Homo sapiens: one gene and its partner. The protein of the gene in region 2 interacts with the protein of the main gene of each other region in a pairwise test. Each region holds a gene or a part of one and is shown on either strand. Other genes may lie near its edges.

The links.
Region 1: the proteins of NCR1 (region 2) and TMEM229B interact in binary tests that used the Homo sapiens proteins (3 or more experiments, as listed by UniProt).

The regions. Positions count from the first base shown.
Region 1 is NC_000014.9:67,471,701-67,475,352, forward strand, and holds part of TMEM229B (transmembrane protein 229B), read right to left. Parts: intron 2,242-3,652; 5' UTR 2,238-2,241; coding exon of another isoform or gene 2,224-2,237; coding exon 1,720-2,223; 3' UTR 1-1,719.
Region 2 is NC_000019.10:54,904,526-54,908,277, forward strand, and holds the start of NCR1 (natural cytotoxicity triggering receptor 1 isoform a precursor), read left to right. Parts: upstream 1-1,622; 5' UTR 1,623-1,662; coding exon 1,663-1,696; intron 1,697-1,773; coding exon 1,774-1,809; intron 1,810-1,997; coding exon 1,998-2,282; intron 2,283-3,752.

The DNA of each region.
Region 1 (3,652 bases), on a different chromosome or scaffold from region 2:
AGTCTGCAAGCTTTTCTCCAGACCTAGGACACAACTGTGGCCCACCCCACCACACCCTGCACCCCACCACACCCTGCACAGTATGGGCAGGGCAGCCAGCAGGGAAGAGGACATTCTCTCCACAGGTGATACCGTCACTTTGTAATGATCCATAAAAAGGGGAAGGCTAATTTCTACCTAAGAGTCCTAGTGTGGTCAAGAAGAGACCATGTACCATGGGGTGGGCCACTTTCTAACGGACCCTTCCCCTTGAGGAGTGAGAGTCAGAGCCGGAAGTAGGCTGGAGTGAGTATTTCACCTGTCCACTGCCAGCAATGGACCTGTCACAGGACAAAGTGGGGCAGGGGAACCAAGGTGCCAATGCCCATGAGTGTGGCAGGGTTAATACTGTTTAAGGAGTGAGCTCAAAGGGTCAGCCTTGCTGGGAGGAGTTTGGGGAGAGGGGCAGCCCTGAGGTTCTGCTACCAGGGCTGAGGCTCTGGCAGAACCAGAACTGATACCCTCCCACAAAGGAGGCTCCAAGGAGCCTTCCACAGCTGCAAGGTCCTCCTCTCTTTCTTCCTCTCATTCTCCATCAGTCTCCAATGCTGGATACCTGGCTTCTCCATCCCATAGAAAGCTAGACTGCTCAGTTTTGGCTTGAAAATAAACCAGGCAGGGAATAGATGACCTAGAACTCTGGCTTTTCCCCACCAAACTGACTTGCCTCTAGGTCCCCACTGTGGATCCACAGGGCCTAACCCAGCCTGCCTGTGCATTGGAGGGCATCATTTGTTCTCAGCTGAGCCACTGAGAAGGGAGCACTGCCACAGCCCACTAGACCGGGGGTAGGGAGGTGTAACTCAGGAACTCCCCAGGCATCAGGCCAGCCGGAACAGTGGAGGGAAGGGCTGCAAGGGGGTGAGGGTTGGGGGTGTCTCAGGGCTTCATCTCCGGCAGCTCCTGTGCTGGCTAGGGAGCTGGGGTGGGGCAGGTGTGGCGACCGACGTGGATAAAGAGCCGCTAGTGGTAAAGGCTTTGAAAACAAGACAGAAAAGGGGGAAACGCCACCGAACACACGGGGATTGAAACCTCCAAAAGCCCAAGGTTGGTGGGAATCCAGCACCACGGGGGCCCCAGAAGGCCAAGGGAGCAGCGCAGGGCCCTGGGGGAGGGGAGAGGAGCCAAGGGAGGGTCTCCCAGCCCTTGCAGACCAGCGTTGCTGCCACGCAGCCTCCTGGCTGCCCAGTCTCTCCTCGGCTGCAGCTCAGCAGGCCCCTGGGGAGGTATTGGTTGCAAGCAAGCACCTGAATATTGCCTAATGGAACCAGCCAAAGCTCAACTAAATCCAGATCGGAGGGAGGGAGGTCAGGCCTTGCCTCCCACCTGCGGCCCCATTCTCATTGTCCCTTGGCCAGGACAGGGCCTGCTGCTTCCAAAGTCAACTACATAGTCCATCGCTGCTCAGCCACAGGCCTCCTGGTACCAACCCCTGAACTGGGCCGCGATCCATGGACCCTTCCCAATGTCCCTCTGCTGCCTCCACACCCCATCCCCCAACACCTGACCACGGCCCCCCAACACCGGCCCCCGCGGACGTTAGGGGGCTCTGTGTGCCCTATAGGGCTGAGGCTTGGCCGGAGCAGGGCTTTTGCTGCATGGATGGGGCAACCTCACCAGCTTGGTCTCTTTGTCCATGAGTTCCATGAGAGATCCCCAGGCCCCCCACCCGCTTCCTGCTCAGTCAGTCTTGACATGGCCGTTGGCCAGGGCTAGGGCGCCGCTGGGCTCCCCGGGCTCAGCGTCCTTGTCGAAGCGGAGGCGGAGGGTGTTGCGGATGATGAACTGCTCCATGATGAGGGCCCCGCAGAACCAGGGCACGGCGTACTCCAGGGTGATGAGGCCCATGAAGTCAAAGTCGAACTGGGAGTAGTCCCAGGGGCAGGCGTTGAACTGGCGCAGGATGAAGCCGGTGGTGAACTCCCACAGGTAGGTCCAGAGCGTGTAGATGAGGCAGCGCAGGAGCAGCGGGCAGCGGCCGCGCAGCCGCAGGTACATGCGCTCCACGATGAGGATGGAGGTGCCGTAGATGAAGAGGGCCCACACGCTCGTGACCCCAGGGAACTTCCAGTTCAAGTTCACCACGAACTCCCAGGCCGCTGTGAACATCACCTCGCAGAAGTAGCCGTGGATGGCATACAGGTACCAGCGGGACAGCGCCGTCAGGGGCTCGGCAGACGCCATGGCGCCGACTGGGGCTGGCTGCGGGGGGCGCAAGAGAGACAGGTGAGGGCCGGGCGCGGTGGCTCACGCCTATAATCCCTGCGCTTTGGGAGGCCGAGGCGGCGGATCACTTGAGGTCAGGAGTTCCAAACCAGCCTGGCCATCATGGTGAAACCCCGTCTCTACTAAAAATACAAAAATTAGCCTGGCGTGGTGGCCCGCTCCTGTAATCCCAGCTACTTGGGAAGCTGAGGCAGAAGAATCGCTTGAACCCGCAAGGCAGAGGTTGGAGTGAGCCAAGATTGCGCCACTGCACTCCAGCCTGGGAGACAGAGTGAGACTCTGTCTCCAAAAAAACAAAACAAAAAAAAAACAGAGCAAAGAACAGAATAACCCACCCACCCCACTGACTTCTCTGCAACTCTACCCAAATGCTACTTAGAGGGAGGTGTCTGTACTCCCTAGAGCTTTTTTGGATTATCTGTGGTCAGTTGAAGAGTCGGCTGGCCTGCTGCACCAATCAGCCCCATTTCTAGACTACTTGCTGATTTCTCAGCAGGCCTATCCACTGGGGACCCCATTTCTTCCTCCACTTCTTCTCAAACAGTTCCATGTCACTCATATTTCTGAGATGTAAGTGACTCATCACATTTGTCCTTGTGTGTGTGCATGCCATTTTTTAACCATGTGTAAGTGTACAATTCAGTGGTCTTAAGTACATTCACATTGTTGTGCAACTGTCACCACCAACCATCTCCAGAACTTTTTCATTGTCCCAAACAGAAACTTTGTATCCATTAAATACAAACTCCCATTCCCCATACCCTCAGCCCCTGGCAACCACTATTCTATTTTCTGTCTCTATGAATTTGACTACTCTGGGTGCCTCATATAAGTGGAATCATACAAACACTGTCCTTTTGTGACTGGCTTAGCATAACTGGCTTAGCTTTCACTTAGCCTAATGTCTTTAAGGTTCATCCATGTTGCAGCACATGTCAGAATTTCCTTCTTTTTTTTTTTTTTTTTTTGTGACGGAGTCTCGCTCTGTCGTCCAGGCTGGAGTGCAGTGGCGCAATCTTGGCTCACTGCAACCTCCGCCTCCTGGGTTCAAGCGATTCTCCTGTCTCAGACTCCTGAGTAGCTGGGACTACAGGCACACACCATCATGCCCGGCTAATTTTTGAATTTTAGTAGAGACGAGGTTTCACCATGTTGCCCAAGCTGGTCACAAGCCCCTGAGCTCAGGTGATCCGCCCGCCTTGGCCTCCCAAAGTGCTAGGATTACAGGCGTGAGCCACTGTGCCCAGCCAGAATTTCCTTCCTTTTAAAGGCGGAATCATATTCCATTGTATATATCACCATATTTTGTTTATCCATTCATCCATTGATGGACACCTGGGTTGCTTCTACCTTTTGGCTACTCAAAATAAGGCTGCTATGAACACGG
Region 2 (3,752 bases):
CTTTTCTTTTTTTTTTTTTTTTTTGAGATGGAGTTTCACTCTTGTTGCCCAGGCTGGAGTACAATGGCACCATCTCGGCTCACTGCAACCTTCACCTTCCAGGTTCAAGCAATTCTCCTGCCTCAGCCTCCCGAGTAGTTGGGACTACAGGCATGTGCCACCACACCCGGCTAATTTTGAATTTTTAGTAGAGACAGGGTTTCTGCATGTTGGTCAGGCTGGTCTCGAACTCCCGACCTAAGGTGATCCACCTGCCTCAGCCTCCCAAAGTGCTGGGATGACAGGCCTGAGCCACCGTGTCTGGCCAGTATTTGGTTTTCTGTTTCTGTGTTAACTCGCTTAGGATAATGGCCTCTAGCTGCATCCATGTTGCTGCAAAGGACATAATCTTGTGATTTTTCAAGGCTGTATAGCGTTCTGTGGTGTATACATATCACATTGTCTTTATCCAGTCCACCTCTGATGGGACCTGGGTGGATTCCATGTCTTCACTATTGTGAATCCTGCTGCAATGAACATACAAGTGCATGTGTCTTTTTGGTAGAATGATTTATTTTCCTTTGGCTATATACCCAGCGATGGGATTGCTGGGCTGAATGGTAACTCTGTTTGTAGTTCTCTGAAATATCTCCAAACCAAACTGCTTTCCACAGTGGCTGAACTAATTTACACCCACCAACAGTGTATAAGTGTCCCCTTTGCTCCACAATCTCACCAGCATCTGTTAATTTCTGGCTTTTCAGTAATGGCCATTCTGACTGGTGTGAGATGGTATTGTTGAGGGATAATTTAGGAATCAGAGAGACCGAGGGGTTGAGGAGGATTTATTATTATTATTATTATTTAGGTGCACCGGCCCCAGTCAGATTAACATCCAAAAAGACTGAGGCTCGAACAGAGAGTCCGGTTACCTTTTAAGCATTTTGTGGGGTTGGGGGAGATCTGTGCAGGGGGAAGCATATTACAGAAGCAAGAAACAAAGGCAGTTATTCAATTGAGACATGCATCACATTATTCCTTACTTTTCAAGAAAAATATGTTTTACGACTTGAGGTTATCCTGTCTAGTGACCTTGCAGCCGCACGGCAAGAGAAACAGGGTCTTCACAATGCCTGGGAAAGGGAGAGATAAGGCTCACTAGCCACAGACAGAAAAACAGGCAGTTCATGTTTAAAGGACTCCACCTCTTTCTCTTCCTCGGGGGGAACTGGGTTTTCTTAAATACAACTGAGTTTTTGTTTACACATTCTGTAATTTCTTTTAATTCCTGTTCCAGTATCTCACTGTGAAACTCCCTATGTTTTTATACGATTCTCAGGGGGTTTCCTCTGGGCATGATTGGGCACAACTTCCCACAGTCAGCTCTGGGTACGACCTCCACATTGCAGAATTGAGAAGTTGACCCAGAAATGCATTTTGGGCTGAGCAGACAATTGTCAGAGTTGCTGGCTAGACCACAGATGTGTCAGAGGGACCACGGCCTTTCTGTAAGCTCATGGTCAGAGGCGGAGGGGAGTTGTGAACGTTCTGATGAAAGCAGTCAACGTGAAAGCGCTCTGGTGATGGGCGCTGGTGCTCACCCACCACTTCCTGTGTATCTATCTCCCTGGCCCGCCCGGCTCAGTCCCCACTGCTCAGCACTAGGCCGGCAGAATCTGAGCGATGTCTTCCACACTCCCTGCCCTGCTCTGCGTCGGTGAGTTCTGGCGTGGAAGGGGAATGGGATCACGGTGTGCCTGGGAGGCAACAGGTCTCATTACTCCCGTCTTCCAGGGCTGTGTCTGAGTCAGAGGATCAGCGCCCAGCAGCGTGAGTCCTTCCTTCAAAGCCCAGGGTCACTCTTCCGGATTCAGGCCAAGCTCCTTCCACCCAAGCACGGCTGGGGTGAGGGGACAGGGTGCTGGCTTCCCAGGAGAGCTTGGGGCCAGCAGCTGGGTGGAGCCTAAGGTTGGGGGGAGGGGGCTCCGCTGGAACTCCAGCCTCTGATTCCCTTCCAGAGACTCTCCCAAAACCGTTCATCTGGGCCGAGCCCCATTTCATGGTTCCAAAGGAAAAGCAAGTGACCATCTGTTGCCAGGGAAATTATGGGGCTGTTGAATACCAGCTGCACTTTGAAGGAAGCCTTTTTGCCGTGGACAGACCAAAACCCCCTGAGCGGATTAACAAAGTCCAATTCTACATCCCGGACATGAACTCCCGCATGGCAGGGCAATACAGCTGCATCTATCGGGTTGGGGAGCTCTGGTCAGAGCCCAGCAACTTGCTGGATCTGGTGGTAACAGGTAACTGTCCGGTTCTCTAACTGGAGAGTGATCTCAGTCTGCATCCGGGATGCAGCATCATCTATGAACTCTTCCAAGCCCCACTCAGACACTGCTTGTCTCGGTAGGAGGCTGGAAGGAGGGGTGATCCCCATCACAATCCTTGCCTACAAGGGGTTGTCTGCAGACCGTGTCTCTACGTCCTAGGAGCAGATGTGTCCTCAGTCAGTTTCTCCATGACACAGATTCTGAGATAGATATTTGTATGCAGGGGTATGACTGAGGAATGTCCTCAAAAACAATGCCTGTGGGCCAGGCGCAGTGGCTTACACTTTGCTTCCCTCACCCATCACAGGTGGTGGGTTTTTTTTTTTTTTATCTGTTTTGAGACGGAGTTTCGCTCTTGTCACCCAGGCTGGAGTGCAGTGGTGCAATCTCCAGTCACTGCAACCTCCACCTCCTGGGTTCAAGTGATTCTCCAGCCTCAGCTTCCCAAGTAGCTGGGATCACAGGCACCCACCACTACGCCACATTTTGTATTTTTAGTAGAGATGGGGTTTCACCATGTTGGCCAGGGTGGTGTCGAACTCCTGACCTCAGATGATCCGCCCGCCTCACCCTCCCAAAGTGCTGGGATTACAGGTGTGAGCCATCACACCCAGCCAGGTGGTGGTTTTCTAAAAAAAAAAAAAAATTAGCTTTTTTTTTTTTTTAACAATATGGTTGTTTATTATTATTATCAAGTATTATACATAGTTACATATACATACATAATTGTATGTGCTATACAATTAGGTTTGTTTATACCAGCAACACCAAAAACACATGAGCAATACTTTGTGCTAGGAAGGCTATGATGTCATCAGGCAATAGGAATTTTTCAGTTTCATTATAATCTTATGGGACCACCATCATATATGTGGTACATTGTTGGCCAAAATGTCATTATGCAGCTCACAACAGTATTTCATGTCCATTCAAATATCTTCTTTTGTGAAATGTCTATTTAAATCTTTTGCCTATTTTTAAATTGGGTTGCTTATATTTTGATTGATTAGGAAAAGTTATTTCTATATTCTGTGTCATATACTTGTGTTGAAATATATATATTTTTTGTCTGTGCCTTTTCATTTGCTCAGGGTCTTTGGACCTTGTTTGGAGGTTCTGGCAGGGGAACACAGCTACTCATTTATTCTTTTTTTTTTAATTTTTTTAGTATTTATTGATCATTCTTGGGTGTTTCTCGGAGAGGGGGATTTGGCAGGGTCATAGGACAATAGTGGAGAGAAGGTCAGCAGATAAACATGTGAACAAAGGTCTCTGGCTTTCCTAGGCAGAGGTCCCTGCGGCCTTCCGCAGTGTTTGTGTCCCTGGGTACTTGAGATTAGGGAGTGGTGATGACTCTTAAGGAGCATGCTGCCTTCAAGCATCTGTTTAACAAAGCACATCTTGCACCGCCCTTAATCCATTTAACCCTGAGTGGACACAGCA